Homo sapiens: one gene and its partners. The protein of the gene in region 1 purifies or fractionates together with the protein of each later gene. This does not show direct contact. Each region holds a gene or a part of one and is shown in the gene's direction. Other genes may lie near its edges.

Evidence for each region.
Region 2: the proteins of GOLGA5 (region 1) and PKN3 purify together in Homo sapiens (affinity purification with mass spectrometry, with the first as the bait; one large-scale study listed by BioGRID). This does not show direct contact.
Region 3: the proteins of GOLGA5 (region 1) and CCR9 purify together in Homo sapiens (co-immunoprecipitation; one large-scale study listed by IntAct). This does not show direct contact.
Region 4: the proteins of GOLGA5 (region 1) and BMAL1 purify together in Homo sapiens (affinity purification with mass spectrometry, with the first as the bait; one large-scale study listed by BioGRID). This does not show direct contact.
Region 5: the proteins of GOLGA5 (region 1) and CLOCK purify together in Homo sapiens (affinity purification with mass spectrometry, with the first as the bait; one large-scale study listed by BioGRID). This does not show direct contact.
Region 6: the proteins of GOLGA5 (region 1) and RPRD1A purify together in Homo sapiens (affinity purification with mass spectrometry, with the first as the bait; one large-scale study listed by BioGRID). This does not show direct contact.
Region 7: the proteins of GOLGA5 (region 1) and TRDN purify together in Homo sapiens (co-immunoprecipitation; one large-scale study listed by IntAct). This does not show direct contact.

What each region holds. Positions count from the first base shown.
Region 1 is NC_000014.9:92,800,805-92,804,304, forward strand, and holds part of GOLGA5 (golgin subfamily A member 5), read left to right. Parts: intron 1-3,500. UniProt on the Homo sapiens protein: Involved in maintaining Golgi structure. Stimulates the formation of Golgi stacks and ribbons. Involved in intra-Golgi retrograde transport.
Region 2 is NC_000009.12:128,705,503-128,709,002, forward strand, and holds part of PKN3 (serine/threonine-protein kinase N3), read left to right. Parts: coding exon 1-41; intron 42-231; coding exon 232-377; intron 378-1,210; coding exon 1,211-1,322; intron 1,323-1,393; coding exon 1,394-1,521; intron 1,522-1,719; coding exon 1,720-1,903; intron 1,904-3,500.
Region 3 is NC_000003.12:45,893,043-45,896,542, forward strand, and holds part of CCR9 (C-C chemokine receptor type 9), read left to right. Parts: intron 1-1,174; exon of another isoform or gene 1,175-1,259; intron 1,260-1,863; 5' UTR 1,864-1,891; coding exon 1,892-1,912; intron 1,913-3,500.
Region 4 is NC_000011.10:13,371,790-13,375,289, forward strand, and holds part of BMAL1 (basic helix-loop-helix ARNT-like protein 1), read left to right. Parts: intron 1-373; coding exon 374-620; intron 621-2,305; coding exon 2,306-2,412; intron 2,413-3,500. UniProt on the Homo sapiens protein: Transcriptional activator which forms a core component of the circadian clock.
Region 5 is NC_000004.12:55,536,910-55,540,409, reverse strand, and holds part of CLOCK (circadian locomoter output cycles protein kaput), read left to right. Parts: intron 1-3,500. UniProt on the Homo sapiens protein: Transcriptional activator which forms a core component of the circadian clock.
Region 6 is NC_000018.10:36,057,560-36,061,059, reverse strand, and holds part of RPRD1A (regulation of nuclear pre-mRNA domain-containing protein 1A), read left to right. Parts: intron 1-3,500. UniProt on the Homo sapiens protein: Interacts with phosphorylated C-terminal heptapeptide repeat domain (CTD) of the largest RNA polymerase II subunit POLR2A, and participates in dephosphorylation of the CTD by RPAP2.
Region 7 is NC_000006.12:123,500,951-123,504,450, reverse strand, and holds part of TRDN (triadin), read left to right. Parts: intron 1-549; coding exon 550-732; coding exon of another isoform or gene 733-800; exon of another isoform or gene 801-2,623; intron 2,624-3,500. UniProt on the Homo sapiens protein: Contributes to the regulation of lumenal Ca2+ release via the sarcoplasmic reticulum calcium release channels RYR1 and RYR2, a key step in triggering skeletal and heart muscle contraction.

The sequences.
Region 1 (3,500 bases):
TATTTTTGTACTTTTAAAGAAAGCAGCTTGCATTTAATTAGAAAGAATGGACCTAAAGGGAACCTCGTTGTCAGGGAAATGAATTAGAACTGGTTATAATACACAGGAGTTATAAAAATTGTTTCTCTTGGGTAGGACCTCTCAACCTTGAGACTTGGTGTTTTGGGCCAAATTAATTCAATAGTGTGGGAAGCCCTCCTGTTCTTTGTAGGATGTTTAGCAGCATCTCTGGCCTCTTAGCCCATTAGGTGGTAGTAGCACCCCCAATTGTGACAACCAACAATGTCTCCACAAATTGCCAAATGTCCCTTGCAGGGCAAAATCATCCCAGTTGAGAACCAATGTCCTGAGATGCCTAGAAATGTGTAGAAATGGGATTGCTGAGCTGTAGGGTTTAACAATGTTCAGCTACACTAGTAATGCCAAAGTGGCTTTCTGCAGAGGTTGTGCCAATTTATACTCTAACCAGCTATGGTTAAGAACTTCTTTTGCTCCACATTTTCACCAACATTTTTTATTTTCAATTTGACTTTTTACTTTTTGCTGATCAGATTTGTCGTTGATATTATTTCCTTCATTACTAGTGTGGTTGAAGATCTTTTCAGATATTTGACTATTGAACTTTCATTTTCTGGAAGTGTCAAGTCTTTTTTATCAACTTTTTTCTGTTAGATTATTTGTCTTTTTTCTTCTTGATTCATAGACATTCTTTATATATTCTAAATTCTAAATTCTTTTCCTCCTCCAGTTTTACCTTGGTTTTTCCCCTCCCCTCTGTCTATGGCATCTCAATGAATAGAAGTTCTTAATGTAGATGGCATGTGGCTTGTGTTTTTTGTGTCTTGGAAAATCTTTCCTTACACTGAGATCATAAAGATATTTTTCTGTATTGTCTTCTATAGTGTGCGATAGGCATTCAATTCCCTTTTTCTTTTTTTTTTTTTTGCCATAGGGAAATCAGCTATTCTAGCATCATTTATTGAACAGAGTCTCTTGTCCCTACCAATTTGCAGTACCACCTGTCTTATATATCAAGTATTCATTAGTGTGTTTCTGGCCACTTAATTCTGTTTTATTGGTTTATTTGTGTATCCTTGTGCCAGTGCCACCCTGTTTTAATTAATGTAGTTTTATGTGTCTTGATAACTGATAGGGTAGCTTCTTCCACCTTGTGGTCTTTCTTCAGAAATGTTTTGGCTGTTCATGGACCTTTCCACTCCTGTATGCATTTTAGGATTTGCTCATCAAGTTTCACAGAAACTCTGTTGGTCTTTTTATTGGGAATTAATTGCTTCTATATAGACAGTTTGGTGAGAGTCAGCACTTTTGCTATACTGAGTTTTCTTATCCACCAATGGGATATAATTTCAACATATTTTGTAGTGTCTTTCATTAAAATTTTATTGTTTTCTCCATAAAGATCTTATATACTTTATGTTAGATTTATTCCTAAGTAGTTTATATTTTTTGAAACAATTATATGTGGTATTCCTTAAAATGTTTTGCTTTGTTATTGCTGGTGTATTTTTTGTTGTTTTTTTGTGTGTACATACATAGCAATCTAGATGGCTCTTAATCTTCATGTTTTTCTGGACATAAATTTAGATTTTCAACAACACAATTATCTGTGTATAATGACAGTTTGTTTCTTCTTAGCCCTTTTATCTTTTAAAAAATCCTTTTCTTCATTGGCTAGGACTCAACGACCAGTTTTGTATCTTGTTCTTTGTCTTAGAGGGAATACTTTGTTTCACTAAGTATGATTTTACATTAGGTTTTTTATAGTTTTTTTATTTGTTTAAGGAAGTTCCCATAAATGTCTAGTTTGAGGTTTTATCATGTTGAATTTTAGCAATGTTTTTTCCTCTACCCTTGGAGATAATATAGTTTTTCTTCTTTAATATTAATATAGTATACAAATCAATTTATTTATTTTTAATAAATCAATTTATTTATTTATTTTTAATAGAGATGGGATCTTGCTGTGTTACCCAGGCTGGAATGTAGCGGCTATTCACATGTATGATCATAGTGCACTGCAGCCCCAAACTCCTGGCTCAAGTAATCCTCCCACTTCCTCCTCCCAACTCACTGGGATGCAGGTGCACACCACTGCACCTAGCTCCAGCTCCAGTTGATACTTTTAAATATAAAACCAAACTTAACTTTCAGTTTGCTAATATTCCCTTTAGGATTTTTGCATTTATTTAGTTAATTTAATTTTTATTTATTATTATTTTTATTATTTTGAGACAGGATCTCACTCTGTCGCCCAGGTTGGAGTGCAGTGGTGGGATCTCAGCTCACTGCAGCCTCAATCTCCCAGGCTCAAGCAATCCTCCCACCTCAGCCTCAATAGTAACTGAGACTGCAGGCACACACCGCCATGCGTAGGTAATTTTGTTCATTTTTTGTAGAGACAAGGTCTCACTATATTGCCAGGCTAGTCTTGAACTCCTGAGCTGAAGGGATCCTCCTGTGTTGGCCTCCCAAGTGCTAGGATTACAGGCATGAGCCACCACACCTAACCTTTTGCATTTATTTTATAAGCGAAATCGGCCTGCGATATTGTTAGGTTTTAGTATTACAGTTATATTAGCCTTATCAAATGAATTGGAAAGTATTCCTTCTTTTTCTGTTGTGTTAATTAATTGGTGTAAGACTGAGATTATTTATTTCCTGAACGTTTGCTAGAACTCTGTGCTAAAACCATCAGGACCTGGGGTATTCTTACTGAAAGGTTTTAACTATTGATTCAGTTGGCTTTTCATTTCTTCTTGAATCTGTTTTTGGTAAGTTACGTTTTTTTCCCCAAGAATTTGTCAATGTCATACACATTTTGAGGGGTTATACTTATTTAATTTCAGGAAAATAATGTAGGGGTCACAGCTGAAACTTTCAACGCAACCAAACATTAGTTATTCATACCAACCCTGCAAAAACCAATGCTTGATCATGCATACTGTGTGAAGAATATCAGTATCTGGCATATATTGAATCCTTACCCTGTTTCTGGCACTGCACTAAATGCCTGCTTTTTAAAACAGCTTTAATGAAGTATAATTCACATGCAATAAACTGCACGATAAGTATTGTGCAATTGATAGATTTCAGTATCTTGTACATTTTAAAATTTGATGGCCTAATGTTGTTTATATCTGTCCCAGGGAACCACTTTTGGTTATGCTGATCCTCTCTAGTATGTTTATTTCCTCTTTTGTTAATTTTTGCTTTCTTTGGGTTTGTTCTGCTGTTTTTATAGTTTTTAAGATGGATATACAACTCATTAGTTTTCTTCCTTCCTGCCTTTCATCTTTAATGTAACCAAGGCTATAAATTTCCTTCAGAATACTGCCTTAGATATCATCCCACATTTGGATATATACTTAATTTATTTTTTGAATTTTAATATTTTATTTTTTATATTATTTAAAAATTTTTTGTAGAGACGAGTTCTCACTGTATTGCCCGGGCTGGTCTCCAACTCCTGGACTCAGGCA
Region 2 (3,500 bases), on another chromosome or scaffold:
CGCCCGAATCCTGCTGCCCGGCCCTGGGCCTGGCCCAGCTGGTGAGTGAGGAGCTGAGACCCCCTCAGGACAGAAGGCTCTAGGCCCATCTGGCCCCTGGCCTTGGCCCTGGCCACTGTGGCGAGACCACCTCATTTCCTGCCTATAGATCAGTAGGGGAAGGAGGAAAGGCCACAGTGGGGGTCTCGGCTCTGGGTGAGGGACTCCTGTGCTCGATACCCCCGTGCACAGAGCCTGTGGCCTCAGGACCCCGGCCGTGGGCAGAGCAGCTCAGGGCTCGGCACCTAGAGGCTCTCCGGAGGCAGCTGCATGTGGAGCTGAAGGTGAAGCAGGGGGCTGAGAACATGACCCACACGTGCGCCAGTGGCACCCCCAAGGTAAGGCCCCACAGTCTGATGGCAGGAGCACCCTGGCCCCTGGTCTGACAGGGAAATGCACCTCAGCCATTGGGCTCATAAGGAGACACCATTCCAGCCTGCAGCCTGATGGGGAAAATACAGCCCCAAACCCCAGCTGGGTGAGGAAGGCATGGCTGTAGTCTCTAGTGTGACAGAGAAGGCCTTGCCCTGGTCTAATGGGATCCTAGCCCAGCCCCAGTCCCAACTCCCAGCATGATGTCCAGAACTGGGCCTCAGTCCTTGTCTGACAAGAAGACTTGGCTGTGGCCCTGATATGATGACGGAGGCAGGACCTTAGCCTTGATCTAATGGGGGAGGCTTAGCTTAGCCCCTGCCCTGATCTGATGGGGGAGGCTTATCCCCAGCCCTGATCTGATGGGAGAGGCTTAGCTTAGCCCCTGCCCTCATCTAATGGGGGAGGCTTAGCTTAGCCCCTGCCCTGATCTGATGGGGGAAGCATCAACCCTGCTCTGATGGGGGAGGCATGACCACAGCCCTGATCTGATGGGGGAGAGTTAGCCCCAGCCCTGATCTGATGGGGGAGAGTTAGCCCCAGCCCTGATCTGATGGGAGAGGCATGACCCCAGCCGTGATATGAAAGAGGAAATTTGACCCCAGCCCTTGTTGGTCAGATGGAAAAGGCTCCCCTGACCCACCAACTAGTCCAACAAGGGAGGCTTGACTTTAGTGTTTGGCCTAGAGGTTTCACTTTAACCCTGTTTTGATGGGGGAGACCCGGCTCCAGTTCCTGGTCTGATGGGGGAAGCTGTGGCCCAGGCCTGGTCTGATGGGCCTGTGCTATGGCTCCATAGGAGAGGAAGCTCCTGGCAGCTGCCCAGCAGATGCTGCGGGACAGCCAGCTGAAGGTGGCCCTGCTGCGGATGAAGATCAGCAGCCTGGAGGCCAGTGGGTCCCCGGAGCCAGGTGAGGCCTTGAGACACAGGGAGGGCGGAGCAGGGAAGAGCAGGGCCTGAGAGCCGCCGTCCTTCCCACAGGGCCTGAGCTGCTGGCGGAGGAGCTACAGCATCGACTGCACGTTGAGGCAGCTGTGGCTGAGGGCGCCAAGAACGTGGTGAAACTGCTTAGTAGCCGGAGAACACAGGACCGCAAGGCACTGGCTGAGGTCAGGCCCCAGCCCTGGCCCTCTCCTAAGGCTGGCTTGTTCCCATACCACCCTCAGCAGGGGTGTGAAGGGAGGGTGGCCGTGTAAAAGCAGGACTTCTCTGTTGAGACTTCATGCGGAAGGTGGCTCCGGGTGACCTGGGCTGCTGCCCCCTGCCATATACCCCACGAACCTGGCTCTACGTTGTCCCCTCTGCAGGCCCAGGCCCAGCTACAGGAGTCCTCTCAGAAACTGGACCTCCTGCGCCTGGCCTTGGAGCAGCTGCTGGAGCAACTGCCTCCTGCCCACCCTTTGCGCAGCAGAGTGACCCGAGAGTTGCGGGCTGCGGTGCCTGGATACCCCCAGCCTTCAGGGACACCTGTGAAGCCCACCGCCCTAACAGGTAGTCAGAAGTTCCTCCCCCTTCAAAGCTCTCCTTCTTTTTGGGGGGAGGCCGGAAGCACAAACAACTCTGATGAAGAGTTCAAGAGTTCCAGTCCTGCCCCAGCACCCACTAGCAGCGTGACCTTGGCAAACTGACATTCCTTCTTCAAACCTCAGTTTATCCATCTGTAAAATGTGGATGATATAGCACCTACCTCATAGGGTTGCTGTGTTGCACGTGATGTGCTAAGCACAGTGCCTAGCACAGTCAGCACTCGGACAGCGTAGCTTGTATTTACATAAATAACCAGAATAATGCTTAAAGCACTGGTGTTAGGAAGCTCGCAGCCCTGGAAAGCTTGATACCCAGCACTGGGCAGCTTGGACTGTTAGAAAGTTTTCTAGGCTGGGCGTGGTGGCTCACGCTGGTAATTCCAGCACTTTGGGAGGCTGAGGTGGGTGGATCATGAGGTCAGGAGTTCCAAGACCAGCCTGGCCAAGATGGTGAAACCCTGTCTCTACTACAAATACAAAAATTAGCCGGGCGTGGTGGCGGGTGCCTGTAATCCTGGTTGCTCAGGAAGCTGAGGCAGAGAATTGATTGAACCCCGGAGGCGGAGGTTGCAGTGAGCCGAGATCACGCCACTGCACTCCACCCTGGGCGACGGGGCAAGACGCCGTCGCAAAAAAAAAAAAAAAAAAGGTTTTCTTGGGCCAGGCATGGTGGCTCATGCCTGTAATCCCAGCACTTTGGAAGACTGAGGTGGGCGGATCACCTGAGGTCAGGAGTTCAAGACCAGCCTGGCCAACATGGTGAAATCCTGTCTCTACTAAAAATACAAAAAAGTAGCTGGATGTGGTGGCACATGCCTGTAGTCCCAGCCACTCGGGAGGCTAAGGCAGGAGAATTGCTTGAACCCAGGAGGTGAGGTTGCAGTGAGCTGAGATTGCGCCGCTGCACTTCAGCCTAGGTAACAGGGCAAGACTCCATCTCAAAAAATAATAATAATAATTTCCTTGGAAAAAAAATAATAAAATTAAACTAAAATTGCTGGGTGCAGTGGCTCACACCTATAATCCTGGCACTTTGAGAGGCTGAGGTGGGAAGATTGCTTGAGCTCAGGAGTTTTTTTGAGACCCAGTCTCAAAAAAAAAAGAAAAAAAGAAAGTTTTCTTGGCTGGGCACAGTGGCTCAAGCCTGTAATTCCAGCACTTTGGGAGGCTGAGGTGGACGAATCATTTGAGCCCAGGATTTCTAGACGAGCCTGGGCAACATAGTGAAACCTCATCTTTAGAAACAAAAAAAATTAGCCGGGCGTGGTGGCGCATGCCTGTAATCCCATCTACTGGGGAGGCTGAGGCAAGAGAATTGCTTGAACCTGGGAGGCAGAGGTTGCAGTAAGCCAAGATTGCACTGTTGCACTCCAGCGTGGGTGACACAGCAAAACTCTTTCAAGAAAAAAAAAAAAAGAAAGAGTTTTCTGGTCTGGCTCAGTGGCTCATGTTTATAATCCTAGCAGTTTAGGAGGGTGAGGCATGTGGATCACTTGAGTCCAGGAGTTTGAAACCAGCCTGGGCAACATGACAAAGCTCCATCTCTACAAAAAATACAAAAA
Region 3 (3,500 bases), on another chromosome or scaffold:
TTGCGAAGCTCTCACACAACCCAGACAGTGAACATATTTATCCCCCACTGAGGTTTCCTTTGTACCCACCTGCCCTCCTGCCCTCCCACACTCCCCTTCCCTCTCTCTCTCTCTCTTTTTTTTTTTGTTTGAGATGGAGTCTTGCTCTGTCACCCAGGCTGGAGTGCAGTGGTGCAATCTTGGCTCACTGCAACCTCTGCCTCCCAGGTTCAAGTGATCCTCCTGCCTCAGCCTCCTGAGTAGCTGAGACTACAGGCGCACACCACCACACCTGGCTAATTTTTTGTATTTTTATAGAAATGGGGTTTCACCATGTTGGCCAGACTGGTCTCGAACTCCCAACCTCAGGTGATCTACCCACCTTGGCCTCCCAAAGTGCTGGGATTATAGGCGTAAGCCACCATGCCCAGCCACCTCCCCTTCTCTCTCTCTCTATTGCCAGGACATCAGTGATTCTGCTTTCCGTCAGTATAGATTAGTTTGCATTATTTAGAGTTTTATACAAGTGAAATCATACAGTATGAACTCCCTTTGGTCTGGCTACTTGGCATAATTGTTTGGAGACTTGTCCATGTTGCTGTGTGAATCGGTCATTCATTCCCTATTCCATTGGACGGATATTTCACAGTTAACTTATCCATTTACTACTTGATGGACATTTAGGCTGTTAGCAGTTTTTGCCTACCACAGAGTAAAGCTGTAATAAACACTCACATACTAGTCTTTATGGGGACATATACTTACAATTTTCTTGGGTGAATACTTAGGAGTGGGATGACTGGATCACATGGTGAGTGCATGTATAACGTCTTAAGAAACTGCCAGTTTTCCAAAGTGGTTTTACCACACATTATGCATTGGAAACCACTGTACTTTCAGAAAAGCAGGGTGGGGTCATGATGTTGTTATGGAAAGGAAGCCAACAGGTTGGCTTTATAGGATTTATGAAAGAGGCTATTTTTTTCGAGAACCTTGGGGTGTGATGCTGGACAGGTTTCCTTGAAATGTACTCGCTAAGGGTATAAAAGGAAATGCCCCAGCTCAGGCACAGACTTCGTCCTCGAAGGCAGTCAAGCTGTTGTTTCTTTGGTTATGTAGGGGTGGGCTTTAAAGAAATTCAAAACACATGAAAATGACAACTCGAGATTTATTTCAGTCAGTTCCGAGGCCCTGTGCATTAGGGAACTAGAACTCATTTTCTTCAGTACACAAACCTAGGACTTCCTTTTCCTGCTGAAGTCAGGGTAAAGAGGAGAAAGGTGGGTTCTGGGGGCACCGGGTCTTTTAGGGAGGGGCCCCAACCCCAGTGGGCACCACCCAGCCCTCATGTTCTTCTTGCCACCTGGTTACTCAAAGGCCCTTTTCCTGGGGAGTCCAGAGCCCAGGGCATTCTCAAAGCGACCACTGTCCTGTTAGCTTCGGTGAGTCCCTTAGCTGATAGAGCAGGGGGAAGGGGAACCAGTCAGCAAAACAGGACTTGACAGACAAGCTGAATCAAGGGAAAGGGAGCTAATGTAGAAAGGATGAGCTGGGAAAAATGTAACAGCCCACCTGCCATTCCTCATTTGTGGATGGGAGATGTACTAATTATTGTCTAAGTAGAAAGAAAACAAATGCTAGAATCAGGTGACCCTCAGAGTCAAAGAAGTGAATGATAACTTCAAAGGAGAGGTTCATTCATTTCTGTGTGGACTACTCAGATGATTCTGAAATCTAGAATACTATATAGACTCTAACTCCTGCTTGGAATATTTTTTTCAGAAGAATAAGCAGATTTAAAATTTAATCTCCATCTTTTTGGCATTTGGTTGTTACTATTCGTTTACAAGCCAGTCCACTTTTTGATTTTTGTCCCTTTTCCAGGAGCAGGCTTGCATCTGACTGACCCACCATGACACCCACAGACTTCACAGTGAGTACAGCCGTGCTCCTCTGGCTCCTCAAAACACACACTCATCTTCCCTTTTTAGGGGGTGTGGGAAGGATCCACTGTGGGGGAAGGATTTATCTGTGTGGTTTCCCAGGGTAAGATCTCTGCCTGGCAATGCGCATTGCTGGGTAGGTTGTTGTCCAGCACAGAGGGTTTTGCAAATGCAAAGAGGCAGCTATGCTTTGGGGTATGTTGTGGAGACAGAGGAAAATGTGGTGTTATAAACAGCTAAGGATTTTTAACCATCTTTAACTAGGGTGTGCTTAGTTCCATATGCCTGTTCTAAAACTCAGACAAATGAGGCAAAGGGAGAATTCATGTAATTTGCTTTTAAAAAACCCATGGTGGGCACATTAGTTGTATTTCTTGCATAACATTATGTAGACCTTATGAAAACACGTAACAGTATACATTCCCCTGAAAGAGACCAAGAGCTGAGCAAAAATTAGTGAGTCAGTCTGGGCGTGGTAGCTCACGCCTGTAATCCCAGCACTTTGGGAGGCAGAGGCGGGCGGATCACCTGGCCAAGGCCAGGATTTCAAGACCAGCCTGCCCAACATGGCAAAACCCCATCTCTACTAAAAATACAAAAATAGCTAGGTGTGGTGGCATGCGCATGTAATCCCAGCTACGTGGGAGGCTGAGGCACGAGAGTCGCTTGAGCCTGGGAGGTGGAGGTTGCAGTGAGCCAAGATCACGCCATTGCACTCCAGCCTGGGCAACAGAGCGAGACTCTGTCTTAAAAAAAAAAAAAAAAATCAGTGAGTCAAATCATAATCCAGAGAATCTTTTTTTCTTTTACAGCCGAATGTAATTAAGTGTAGAATCAAATTAATTTCCCATGCTTTTGTAACATTCATAAATGCCTTATAAAATTACCTAAGGGCTTTGATTTTGCTCTTCTCCAAGGGAAAGCCTGGGTTTTACATGTAGATAATTGAAATCCAGACTTCCTAGCAGGCGGGCTAACAAACTGCCTCACAGTACATTGTGGGTTTCCATGATCTATGGAGAGTGGTGGTTGAAACAGTTTATCAACTAAATTATTTATGATATGCTAATGATTCATTAGTATTACATATGTATAGTTACCTAATTGCACCTATATCCATAACAACAAAAAAGTAATTAATTTGGTCCTGGTGAAGTAACTATTATTCTGACAAAAAGTAGACTCTTCAGTTTCTCCTGCATTAAATTCACCTTTCAATCCCTGAGGCTGTGGAAACAGAAGTAGATGAAGGCAGCAGAGCCAGGGCTGCTTCTGAGCTTGCCAGTCATTTGCTTTTATCATTTGGGATCTTGGATAATAGCCAACTCTGCAAAGCAGCCCCAGATAAGAAGGAAACTGCACCTCAGTAATGACCTGCTCTTGTCAGAGGAGTCTGGCGCCATCTAAATGGGAAGAAGATGGGACCCCTGTGGCCCTGACTCCCATATTCCATGGAAAGTAGCCGTGGCACCCTGTGGCCACCTTTCTGAGGATGTGCTGGGCCAGTCACCCATGCAGGTGCCCCACATTCCCTCAGCGTCACAGTAAAGGCAGAGTCCTTTTTACAGATGAGGAGAC
Region 4 (3,500 bases), on another chromosome or scaffold:
CCTCTGTGCCTGTGTACGTCATCAGCCTTTATACATTCTAGTCCCTCAGCCACTGCTCATCCTTCTTGATCCACCTCCTCTACTGGTTTTTTGGGGGAGCCTTCCTCTCCCTAGGAAGAGTTAGATATTCCTTCCTTGGTGTATGTAATGAATGTCCATGGTATAACTGGCCCTACTTAAGCATTCTGACACTGGATGACAGTTTGTTTCTCTTTCCGTCTGCCCCTTTCATTAGATGCTTACTTCTGGAGAGTGAAGCCTTGATTTTTTTTTATTTTTTGACTCCCTACCTACATCCCATCCCACCATCGGCCGTGTACACCTCCATGGCCCAAACCTAGTGCTGACACTAACCACGAACTTTGCTTTCTAGCAGATCGAAAAAGCTTCTGCACAATCCACAGCACAGGCTATTTGAAAAGCTGGCCACCCACAAAGATGGGGCTGGATGAAGACAACGAACCAGACAATGAGGGGTGTAACCTCAGCTGCCTCGTCGCAATTGGACGACTGCATTCTCATGTAGTTCCACAACCAGTGAACGGGGAAATCAGGGTGAAATCTATGGAATATGTTTCTCGGCACGCGATAGATGGAAAGTTTGTTTTTGTAGACCAGAGGTAAGAGTCTACATACTACCCTTGAGCAATGATGGTAGAGGATTTTCAACCCTGATCTAAAAAGCAGAGAAGACTGGGCCATCAGCTGGCTTTTCTAAGAATGAAGAAAGAAAGAAAAAGCTGGGTGCAGTGGCTCACACCTCAAATCCCAGCACTTTTTGAGGCCAAGGTGGGTGGATCACTTGAGCCCAGGAGTTTGAGACTAGCCTGGGCAACGTGGCAAAACCCTGTCTCAACTAAAAATACAAAAATTAGCCAGGCATGGTGACACATACCTGTAGTCCCATCTACTCTGGAGGCTGAAGCAGGAGGATCAGCTGAGCCTCGGGAGGTCAAGGCTGCAGTGAGCTGTGATTGCACCACTGCACTTCCGCCTGGGCAACAGAGTGAGACCCTGTTTCAAAAAAAAAGAGACAAATGATGAGAGTCTCTGTTAAAAAATGAGATTCAATAGGATATCATCATAAATACAGAGATTTTTCTGTCATTCTTTGGCATATAGAGACAATTAAGTGGGGTGCCTTGATGTCCATGGCTAAAAGAAAAACAGTAGGGATAGCATGCTGTCTGAATCTATGGAATGTTCCAGAACCATTATTGTGATTGAAATTCTTTTGAATCTAGGACTTGGAAGCAATTATTTAGTCCTGAGCTGTCCAATAAAATACTCGTTGGCCATGGTAGCCTCCCATGTGGCTAACGGCACAGACATAGAACATTTCCATCATCACAGAAAGTCTTGTTGGACAGCGTTGATCTAATCCAACCTCCTTATTTTATGGATGAAGAACAGAGGCCAGCCTGGGGACTGGTCTCCTGTAGGATTCACAATTAATTGGTAATAGACCTGGACCAAGGACCCAGGTGTCCCAAATTTACTGCTGCCTACTGCTTTCCCTCAGAATATGCACAGGCTAATAATTTTTCTGGCTACTAGAGACAGCCACAACATGCTGGAAAAAGAGACAGCCTCAGCTGTCTTGTGGCCTCAGCTGCTGCAGCTTCTGGCATTTGGTTGTCCTGATAAAAAGGAGGCAGCAAAAACTAGAAGCCTTGCACTGAGGTTTAGATTTATACCACATTTTAATCTAATTAATGTGGTTCCTTTTTTAAAGACAGATCTCAGTCTGTCACCCAGGCTAGATCTAGTGCAGTGGCGAGATCTTGGCTTACTGTAGCCTTGACCTCCCGGGCTCAAGCAGTCCTCCCACCTCAGCCTCCCAGGTAGCTGTGACCATAGGCATGTGCCACCATACCCAGCTCATTGTTCTGTGTTTTTGGTAAAGACAGGGTTTCACCATGTTGCCCAAGCTAATCTTGAATTCCTGAGCTCAGACAATCTGCCCAACTCGGCCTCCCAAAGTGCTGGGATGACAGGCATGAACCACCATGCCCGACTGGTTGCAATTTTTAAAGCCCCCTCAGATTTGATTTCTTGTGATAATAGTCCCTTTACAAAGGCTTTGCTCTGTTTCCCTCTATTTTTATAGCCTTGATTAAATTCAGATGCCTGAAAAAAAGAGAGAAAGATCCACACAGTGAGCCCTCTGAAAATCCATCCAGCTCTTTTGCCTGCAGCTTTGACCTTGCTCTCATAGGCTGTAGCAGGGTTTATCCATTGCAAAGTTGCAATTAATCATCTGAATGGCTTTTTCTTCTTTAAATATTCCTTTATTCCCTTTTAGGGCAACAGCTATTTTGGCATATTTACCACAAGAACTTCTAGGCACATCGTGTTATGAATATTTTCACCAAGATGACATAGGACATCTTGCAGAATGTCATAGGCAAGGTAAGCTAGGATGTATGAAAGATCTTAAGTTGAAAGTGTCCCCTTGCTTCTAGACTAGTCAACATGACCTTCCAGGGAAATCTGTCCACTGAGGATGTAGAGTCAGCCAGCCTAGGACTCTTCAGGTCAGAACATCTGTGTGAAGAGGAAGCTGATACCTGCAGGCACTGTTTATCCCCCTTGTAGTTGCCCTGTGCTGACTGCATGGCAGTTTCTGAAAGACATCTCTTGTTCAGAGGGTTTTCCCAGACCCTGTAAAGATTTAGTATGGCCCAGACTGATCTGATTCTCTTTTCCATTCAAGCCTGCACTACCTCCTGTGTTTTCTGTCTTGACTAATGCTGTGGCTTCATGTGCAGGCTCCTGAGAGAGACCAACATTGACCCCTTCTTTCACTGTGTCTCCACCAGATCCTGTTCATTCACCTCAGACATGCATTTCCAAAAGTCTACTTTTTACCACCTCTGCCATCACCCTGGTTCAGGCCCTCGTGCCTACTTAGAGACCTGTGATAGACTTCTCAGGGTTTCTCTGATCCCTCTCACCCCCAGTTCATCTTCCATAGTTATCCTATTTATCCCCAGATAGATTGAGCCTGGTAACATCAGCCTGCTTAAAAACCTCCTGCTTTAGACTCAAGCCCAAATGCTTTTGACAGGCAATCAAATGTGAGACCTTCCACCTTCTGGCCCCAGCCCACCTCCTCAGTTTCAGTCCCCATCCCTGCCTGCAGAGGCCTGTGCTCCAGGCACACTGACCTCACTGGCCTCTCCCCAACCAGACCCTGCTGCTCCTCAGGCACTGCTGGGTTCTTCCCTCCCTCCTTCTCTTGGCAAACTCGTGTTCATCCCTCAAGGCTCTGATCTCTTCTCCCTGTATAGCCTTCCCTCACTACTCTTCTTGAGGGCAGGAGTCATAGCCTGTCTCCTCTTGTATCTCCAGTGCCTGGCACATGAGAAGGGCTCATTACATGTTACATGAAAGAATGAGGTTGAATAGGTGAGTAGCCTCTGTTGATTTGGATGTTCTTAGAAATGAGATAAGTTCTATATTGCCCTTGGGCTTTGTGATTGAGATAAAGCATGACA
Region 5 (3,500 bases), on another chromosome or scaffold:
CCTCCCCTCCCCTCCCCTCCTCTCCCCTCCTCTCTTGCCCCCAATTAAAAAATAGCACATCCCTAATGTGGGAAACAGTAAGAAAGCATAGATTACATTTTAGGCAGGGCACAGTGGCTCACACCTGTAATCCCAGCACTTTCGGAGGCTGAGGTGGGTGGATCACTTGAGGTCAGGAGTTTGAGACCAGCCTGGCCAACATGGTGAAACCCTGTCTCTACTAAAAGTACAAAAATTAGCCGGGCATGGTGGCGGGTGCCTGTAATCCCAGCTACTTGGGAGGCTAAGGCAGGAGAATTGCTTGAACCCAGGAGGCAGAGGTTGCAGTGAGCAGAGATCACGCCATTGCACTCCAGCCTGTGCGACAGATCAAGACTCAGTCTCAAAAAAAAAAAAAAAAAATTAATATCATTGGAGATCATACCACCGAAAGTGCTGTTGTTAATCTTCTTGATTATCTATCTGCTTCCTGCATTTTGTTGAGCCATTACATAAGTATATGTATACTTATATGATGTTATGGGCTCCTAATGTAGTCCACTGCAGTGCAAGCTGTTCAGTTAACAGTGAATCATCAACATATTTTCATGTCAGTATTTTTCTGCTATGTGATTATTTTTAGTAGGTATGTAACATTCTCATCTCTGTGTAATAATTTACTTATCAATCTTCTGTTGGACATTGAAGTTGTTTTCAATTTTTAGGATAATAATACTGTCACTTCCCTATATCATGCATTTTGATACTGGCCTACCTAGTATCAGTGATTTTTTCTATTTTTGTTTCTCTGAAAATATCTCAATTTCACCTTTTTTTTTTTTTTTTTTTTTTTTTTTTGAGACAAGGTCTCACTCTGGCACCCAGGCTGGAGTGTAGTGGTGTGAACATGGCTCACTGTAGCCTCAACCTTTTGGGCTCAGGCAATCCTTCACCTCAGCCTCCTCAGTAGCTGGAACCACAGGCACATGCCACCATGCCCAGCTAATTTTTAAATTTTTTGTATAGGCGGGGTCTTGTCATGTTGCCCCGGCTGTTCTTGAACTCCTGGGCTTAAGAGATCCCCCCACCTTGGCCTCCCAAAGTGCTGGGTATAGGTGTGAGCCACCATGCACGGCAGTTTCACCTTTTTTGAAGTGGTTTTTGGTGTTTTTTTTGTTGTTGTTGTTGTTGTTTTTTTGAGACAGTCTCGTTCTGTTGCTTAGGCTGGAGTGCAGTGGCGTGATCTGAGCTCACTGCAGCTTCTGCCTCCTGGGTTCAAATGATTCTCATGCCACAGCCTCCTGAGTAGCTGGGATTACAGGCATGTGCTACCATACCCAGCTAAATTTTTTGTATTTTTAGTAGAGATAGGATTTTGCCATGTTGGCCACGCAGGTCTCCAAACTCATGGCCTCAAGTGATCTGCCCACCTTGGCCTCCCAAAGTGCTAGGATTACAGGCATGAGCCACTGTGGCTGGCCTGAAGTGTGTTTTCACTGGCTATTAAGTTCTAAGTTGGTAGTTATTTTCTTTCAACACATTAAGAATGTTTGGTTGCTTTCTGTCTTCCTTTCTTTTTGTTGAAGTCAGCTACCAGTCTTATTGAAGGCAATGTATTAGCTATATTCTTGCTGAGGATAATGTGTCTTTTATTTTTCCTTGGCTAATTTTAAGACTCTCTGTGTTACTTTTAAAGCACTTTGATGTGTTCAGATGTGGTTTTCTTTGTTGCTTTATGTTTATAGAGTTTTTTGAATCTAGCTGGATGCCTTTTAGTTTTGGAAAGTTCTGTTACCACCTTTTCATATATTCTGCCCCTTTTTTCTTTTTGGATCCTAATTACACATATATTAAACTTAATTATCATGTTCCACATGTTGAAAAAAATTTTTTTCTCTGTTTGGATATTTTCTATCGACCTGCCTTCCAGTATGCCAAAACTATCTTCTCTTTTTGTCAAAATAATCTTTTGTGTTCTTAATTTTACATTGTGGTTTTGAGTTCTAGAGTATTCCTTTGATGTTGTTTTATAGACTTGTAATAGACTCCAGTTCTCTTGAACATACTAATTATAGTTATTTAAATGCTTGTCTTTTCCAATATCGGCATCATCTATTGGTCTGTTTATCTTGTTTGTTTTTCTGTTGGTTATTGGTCATATGGTTGTATTGTTCCGTCTCTTCACATGCCTGATAAGTTTTCGAAGGAACTTACCCATTTCATTTAACTTGTTGCATTTATTGCAAAAAGTTGCTTATAATACTCTATTATTGTTCTTTTAATATCTGTAGAAAGTGTAATGAGTCTAATATCTGTATAACCTGTAGAGATTTAGTATCATTCCGAATACTAGTAATTTGTCTCTGCTCCCCTTTTCCCTGATTAGTCTGGCTAGAAGTTTATTAATTTTATTGAGGTTCTTAAAAAGTTAACTTTTAGTTTAATTGACTGCCTGTGGTTTTCTTATTTCCGCCCTGGTCTTTATTTCCTTTCCTCAGCTTACTTTTGGGTTTAATTTGTTTTCTTTTTCTGGTTTCTTAAGATAGAAGCTGAGGTCATTGATTTGTGACCTTTTTTCTTTTCTAATGTAAGCATGCTATAAACTTCCCTTTAATTGTTTATAATTTATTTATTTGTTTTTTGAGACAAGGTCTCACTACTGCTCAGGCAGTACAGTATCGTGATCATGGCCCATTGCAGCCTTGACCTCTCAGGCTCAAGTGATCCTCCCACCTCAGCCTCCTGAGTAGCTGGGACTGCAGGCATGTGCCACCATGCCTGGCTAATTTTTTATTTTTATTTTTATTTTTTTGAGACTGGGTCTCACTCCGTTGCCTAGGCTTTAGTGCAGTGGCCCAATCACGGGGTCACCACAGTGTCGACGTCTCAGGCTCAAGAGATCCTCGCACCAGAGTCTATTAAGTGCTGGGATTACAGGCGCGTGCCATCATGCCTGGCTAATTTTTGTATTTTTTGTAGAGATAGGGTTTCACTATGTTGCCCAGGCTGGTCGTCAACTCCTGAGCTCAGGCAATCCACTTGCCTCAGCCTCCCAAAGTGCTAGGATTACAGGTGTAAGCCACCACACCTGGCCAGAGTTTATTACAATTTTTTCTGAAGACAAGGATGTCACTGTGTTGCCCATGTTGGTCTTGAACTCAGTTCAAGCAATCCTCTTTCCTTGGCCTCCTGGAGTGCTGGGATACAGATGTGAGCCTCCACTCCTGGCCGTTTCCAGTTTTTGATATGTTTCCATTTTCATTCCATTCAGAGTACTTTATAATTTCTTTCCTGATGTCTTACTGGGTCTATAGTTTATTTATAAGTGTGTTATATAGTTTTCAAATATTTGAGGATTTTCCAGAGATCATTGTTATTTTTAATTTAATTCCATTGTAATGAGATAATTTTAAATTTATTCGGATTTATTTTATGGCCTAGAATATATTCTATCATTGTAAGTGTTCTTCATGTGCAGTTGAAAAGAATGTGTGTTTTGTTGTTAGGTGGAGTGTTTTACA
Region 6 (3,500 bases), on another chromosome or scaffold:
GAGGTGATACATAGCTTTGGATGCAAAGAGCCAAACCTGGAAATGGTCAGCCTTTGAATGCCTGTTAACTTTGTTTCCTAAATTTTTTTTTTTTTATGAGACAGTGTCTCACTATGTTGCCGAGGCTGCTCTTGAACTCTTGGGCTCAGGTGATCTTCCTGCCTCAGCCTCCCGAGTAGCTGGGACTACAGGTGCACACTACCATGCTGGGCTTATTTTTTCTAGGGTTGGCAACAATTAAAATAATACATTATTTAAGGTTTAGATTTTCCTCCTATTTGTAATCATTTGTTGAAATCATCACTTTTTCAATAAGCTATGTTAGATATCTTTCAGGGAACTAATTACCATTTTATATTGTATTATAGGTTGGGGGGTTACATATTGGTTGTGAAGTAGATAGTGGGCTCCTTCAGGTTGTTTACCTATTTCAATTTTTAGCTCCCCAGCATACTGCGTTTGATGAAAGTTTTTAAATATTCGTTGAATTAACATTCGTATTCACTAATACGGCTTAAACTTGTAAGATGTGCTAAAATAAGTACTGTATATTCTTGGCTGTTCTTATTAATTTGGTTTTAGAAAAATGGAGAAGTGAAAGAACATTTTTCTTTTTTATTTTTTTTGAGACAGAGTCTCGCTTTGTTGCCCAGGCTGGAGTGCAGTGGCGCGATCTCGGTTCACTGCAACCTCCACCTTCCCGGGTTCATGCCATTCTCCTGTCTCAGCCTCCCAAGTAGCTGGGACTATAGGCGCCCGCCACCATGCCTGGCTAATTTTTTTGTATTTTTAGTAGAGATGGGGGTTTTACCGTGTTAGTCAGGATGGTCTCGATCTCCTGACCTCGTGATCCGCCCACCTTGGCCTCCCAAAGTGCTGGGATTACAAGCGCGAGCCACCACACCCGGCCAAAAGAACATTTTTCATTTGCTTTAAAAATATATAGCAATATAAATCCTAAAAATGAAGAGAGTCTGTTTTAAATTGACAGTTCAGTGGCTTTTATATTGTCTGATACTGTTACTTGTTTCTCTTTCAGAGTTAGAATTGAAAAAGTAAGTAGACAATGCTAGCACCTTCTAAGTTCTTATATTTAAAAGGATTAATGTTGTCAAACTGACATGGTGACTCCCATGTAGTCATCTTGCAGCTTCAATAGTTATAGTCTTTCTTAACACTTAAAAAAACTTAATTTCTTAAGATATCAAATATTGAGCCAGTATTTATTTCCGTGATCATTTCACTTTTTTAGAAGCCATTTGTTTGAATCAGGATCCAAGTAAAGTTCATTTATTGCAATTGATTACTATGTAAATAAAGTTCCTTTACATCTATGGGTGCCATCTGTCTTTTATTTTAAATGTATTCTTTGAAAAAATCAAATTGGTTGTTCCAAAGAAATTCTTATTCTAGACCAGGAATTTCTCCTACTTTCTGGTTTGAGGATCTCTTTACTCTTAAAAATTGAAGATTCTAAATCTTTTGTTTATGTGGGTTATATCTACCGCTAGTTACTACATTGGAAATTAAAACACTTAAAAATTTATTTAATAATTATTTGTTTTAAAACTATAATACTAAATCGATTCATGTTAAATAATATTTTAAAAATTTTTAATTAAGGCCAGGTATGGTGGTGCATGCCTGTAATCCCAGCACTTTGGGAGACTGAGGCAGGCAGATCACATGAGGTCAGGAGTTTGAGACCAGCCTGGGCAACATGGCAAAACCATGTCAGTACTAAAAATTTAAAAATTAGCCAGACGTGGTGGTGCACATCTGTAATCCCAGCTACTTGGGAGGCTGAGGCACAAGAATCACTTGAACCCGGGAAGCGGAGGTTGCAGTGAGCTGAGATTACTCCAAGCCTGGGTGACAGACTGTATCTCAAAAAAAAAAAGATTTTTAAAATTACAAATGGACACATTGTAATTGTATGTATTTATGGGATACAGTTTGATGTTTTGATAGATGTATATGTTGGTCTAATGATCAAATAAGGGTAGTTAGTATCCATTACCTCATGCAATTATCGTAACATAACATTTTTAATGAAAACCAATTATATTTGCTAAAAAATACCAGGGAAAGGAGTGATTATTTTACATTTTTCCAGATCTTTATAAGATCTCTCTTAATAGAAGCCTGCTGAATTCTCGTGTCTTTTTCTGCATTCAGTCTTGCTGTATCACATGACCTCTGCAAAACAACACTGTACGCTTGTGAGAGAATGAGAGTGAAAAAAGGCAAATAATAGATGAGCATTCTTGTGAAAGTAGTTCTGACTTAATTGACCCCATGAAAGTGTCTTGACCCCCTGGAATCCACAGACTGTTGGCTGAGAAGTGGACCATTTTCTGAATATTGATAATTAGATCAAGAGACTAGGATACATTGCTTTGCCTTAAGCAGACATATCCCTCTAAAATATTAATTCCCCAGAAAAGCAGAAACTGAATTTATAAAATTTCCCTTTGGCCCGTAACGTAATTTTATTTAGGTTCTCTTTCCTGTGACGTTAAGGTTTTTTAAAAAAAGTTGTTGATTTGATGTTTTTACATCTGATTCAACAAATTATCTCTACATTTCTTATAAAAATAAAAGTGTGTTCCTACATTAAACAAACAATCTGTAATTTTACAGGCTTTTTTTCTTGATAAAATAAATTTTTCATTCAAAATGTACAAGTAGAAGTTTCTTCTGTTGGTTTTCTGGCCGGGCGCAGTGGCTCATGCCTGTAATCCCAGCCAGCACTTTGGGAGGCTGAGGCGGGTGGATTGTTTGAGGCCAGGAGTTTGAGACCAGCCTGGGTAACGTGGCAAAACCCTGTCTCTACTAAAAATACAAAAATTAACAGGGTGTGGTGGTGCATGACTGTAGTCCCAGCTACCCAGGAGGCTGAGGTAGGAGGATTGCTTGAGTCTGGAGGCAGAGGTTGCAATGAGCCATGATCTGACCAGTGCAGTCTGGCCTGGGCAACAGAGTGAGACCCTGTCACAAAAAATACAAGAAGTTTCTTCTATTAGGTTTCTTTATTCAAGAAATACTTGTTGACCTCCTTACTGTCTTAGTGAACAAGGATGATTGAGCAGATAAAGGGACATACAGCTGTGTTCATGGAGCTTACATATCAGCCAGGCAAATGGACTTTGCCAAACTAGTAACTGCACAGTAATACAAAGGAGAAATGTAATTGGGAACCTATCCTAGTTTATGGAATCAGGGAAGGGTCCTTTGGTTTAAGATTTGAAGTATATGTAGAATTTACTAGGAGCTGTACCAAGAATATAGACATAGGTTTTAGCTGTTGTAATCATTTGAATGTGGTGTTATGTAGAACAGCATTATTTGACTTTTCAAATTGAACATTTCTGTTCATAAGTCCTTTCTGGAGGTAGACAGGATAATACACATTTAGATAAACTTTTATTTATTTATTTATTTTTTTGAGACAGGGTCTTACTCTCTCACCCAGGCTAGAGTGCAGTGGCATGATCTCA
Region 7 (3,500 bases), on another chromosome or scaffold:
TTATTTCTGTTAGTCAACACCAATGCGATAATTTTACACTTGCATTACTAATTGTTGTCTTTAAAAAAGACTTTGTTGGCATTTCAGTTTCTTGAATGACCCTTAAGATCTTTCAGTTATCAAGCAAAATGATCATGTGCTTATAAAAGGAGACTACTTCACTGGGCTGTTTGGTATGGAAATTGTCTTTCACAGAAATTCCTGTACATCCATCCCCTGCATGCTACAAATGCCTCCTTGTTGACATGCTAAGTTACTATTGCCTTAAAAAATAGTGTTTTCATGTACAAATTAAAAGCCATAACACTTTTAGTAGTCTATCTAATATAGCACTTCATAAACTGTATAAAACTCTGGTAAGTCACAAGTGTTTATGTTAAGAACAGTATTTTTCATTGTTTTCCTGAAAAATACTGTTCTTAACATAAACACTTGTGACTTACCTTTCTTCCCTCTTTCTTTTCCAATTTTCCTTAATGACATAGTACAGATGAAACATTATGTTTGTAAATAAACAAAAGTATTTCAACATCTTTTAACTTTATACAGAACAGAAGAAAGCTAAGACTGCAGAAAAGAGTGAAGAAAAGACTAAAAAGGAAGTGAAAGGTGGAAAACAGGAGAAAGTGAAGCAAACAGCTGCAAAAGTAAAAGAAGTACAGAAAACACCATCAAAACCCAAAGAAAAGGAGGACAAAGAGAAAGCAGCTGTGTCAAAGCATGAACAGAAAGGTAAACATTCAGAGCAGGAGGCTGCCGGAGGTTCTAAGAGAATATTGGGCAAGAAGCACATGCAGTGAAATTAAAAGTTGAAAAAGACCAAAATCAGACTTCAAATGGGGGTAAAAGACATTAAAGTAAATATATCAGAAAAGAAATACAGTAAATTGGGAATTAATATTTATTTATAAAAATACTAAAATGTGTTCACAGATCTAAAGGGGCATTTTGAAGTATTTTTAAAAGGGGTTTGGAGGTAGCATCCGAAATCATATAAAGATTGGGGATAAATGTTGAATTTTTGAGATATGGAATGTCTATTAAGAGGTGGAATAAAGATTGTATGTGTCATACTCTTTGGAGGAAAGTGGTCCCCCAAAATGACAGCAATTCCTAAGGAGTTTGTGAAGGGGTACATGTTGGAATCATATAGAGTAAATATCATAAAAACTATCCATACATTACTGTTGCATTGGCAAGAGCACATCATTTAGAATATACATCCAATTATTAAATTTATTTAATAGGCAAGATGTTATAGAGAAGACAGTTCTCAAGTTTCTTTTTCAGTTTCCATTGACTAAATTTCTAACTTTAGAAAGCTCTGAATGTGACATATTTCGCCATTCTTCAGCAAGAGTGATGTCAAACTTACATCCCCACTTTGCAAAAATATATCACTTCAATGGAGGTGGCATATAAACCTGAATTTTTATTTTATGGAAGGTTGCTATGTGAATATACAGAGCTGAAGGTTTAGGAGGGCAACTAAGGGTCTTATCGTACCACATCTCTGGCCCTTATTGAATGTTTCTTTTCCTAAGTCCATTCCTGACTCCAGTTTGCTGTATAATCCTGAGACTCCTTTACAGAATACGGGGATCTAACATGTAGAGACTATTCCTGTAATTGGTGTTTCTTGGAGACATTGCAAAACCAAATTTTTCTTTACTTTGTAGCACTTTTGACTAATGTTATCTAAGGACTGTATCAAAGAATTGGTTTCTATTAGATTTTAGTTTAAGAAATCTTACAATTTTATTACAGAGCAGGCTATTTGGAGGATGAAACTGAAATTAATTTTTCCTCATAAGGCACAAGAAATGAAATTTGCAATGCACTCGTACTGTATTTTCATCTTTTTTCTCTTGAATTTGCATTTGTAAACTTTGATTCACATGTAGTATTTGTCAACTCTGATTTATATGACAAAAGATACATATTTTAAAAATATATATTTTAAAAAGGAAAGATTTTTTCTTTTTTTAGTGATCTACAAACCTTTAAATTTAGATAATTTTAATTTATTATTTTAAGATATAAGTCATATTAAAACTTAGGAGCTCTAAAACTTTTTCCAATTTTCAAGGTGATTATATCACCATGAAAAAAATTTAAAAGTTAATTATTACTTCCATCAAAATTATGTCATTAATGAAATATTTTGGTAGACAAAAAGGATGAAGTAAGTAAAGAGAAAATACGTTGAATATAATATTTTACTGTGGTAAAAAAACAGCAGAAATAATCTTTGGATTCACTGGTATGATTACTTAGATCCTGAAATCCTTTACACTTTAGATTGCTGTTCAAAAAGAAAAATAATCACATGAAATCAGTGAAAACCTACAAAGTACATTCTAATTTTTAACCATAAATACAGAGTGTAAAAATTGATGCCAGTTATATTTGGAAATGTCAAAATACTTATCTAACAACTAGGAATGTGAATGTATTTTTTGATGTTAATTTTTCATATCTTTGGGGATTTGGGAGCCACATTTTATTGATAAAAACTCATCACCGGAACACTTTAAAATAATGTTTATTTTCCAGGCCACAAATATTGTATTTCATTTCTATCAGTAATCAGATTTATTAAAGACAGCATTATATTACCATATCCCTTTTCAGTCTACTATTTTTATTTCTACACAAAGAGTTATTTATCTATTAAAAGGACATTCAAATATCATTTAGAGTTTAAAACAAAAGCACAAATGTGATTTTATCAGCTAAACAATTGCAATTGCTAAAGCAAGTCTCAGTATTGAGAACAATTGCCATCAATTATATAAATGTATCATTAGGTAAGTATTCAAAACTTAACCTCTAATGGCAGATCAGACATATAAATATGTCATTTTATTTTTCATTTTTTGTTACTAAGCAAAGATTTAATTAAGAGCATTTTTAAATTAAAGAAAACTAATTACATTATGATTTTAGCTAAGCAAGATAAAGATATAGTTTTTTTTAATTTCTGAGGCTTTGGTTTTGAAAATTTTATATGATGACTTAGTTGAGTTAGCTCAACTAAGCTAACTGTTGAGTTAGCTTTTTGGGCAAGAGAATACTCATTCACATAGTTAAGTTAGACCTAATATGTTTGAGGCATTCTTTTCATATAGATTTCTAAATACTTCTTTTTAAAGAAATAAGGCTCATAGGTCCTTTACTCACTTGGAAACAGATTTTCACATGGGACACATATTTATTAGTAATTATTTAATTACATAGTATACATATGAATATATTCAATGTAGTTACTCTCAATATTGTATATGGAAATAATACATCTCTTTTTCTGCTTAAAGCATTAGGGATAAGATGCATATGTATATACACACCTACCATAAACACACACACACACACAGACACACACACACACCCATCAAATAATCTAGTTTTTATGAACCCATCTAAATCTGTTTGTAGAGTAGGAAGAGTTGGCATAGTCAGACATTGCTCCCTAGTTTTCTGATGACCTCTAGGAGGTC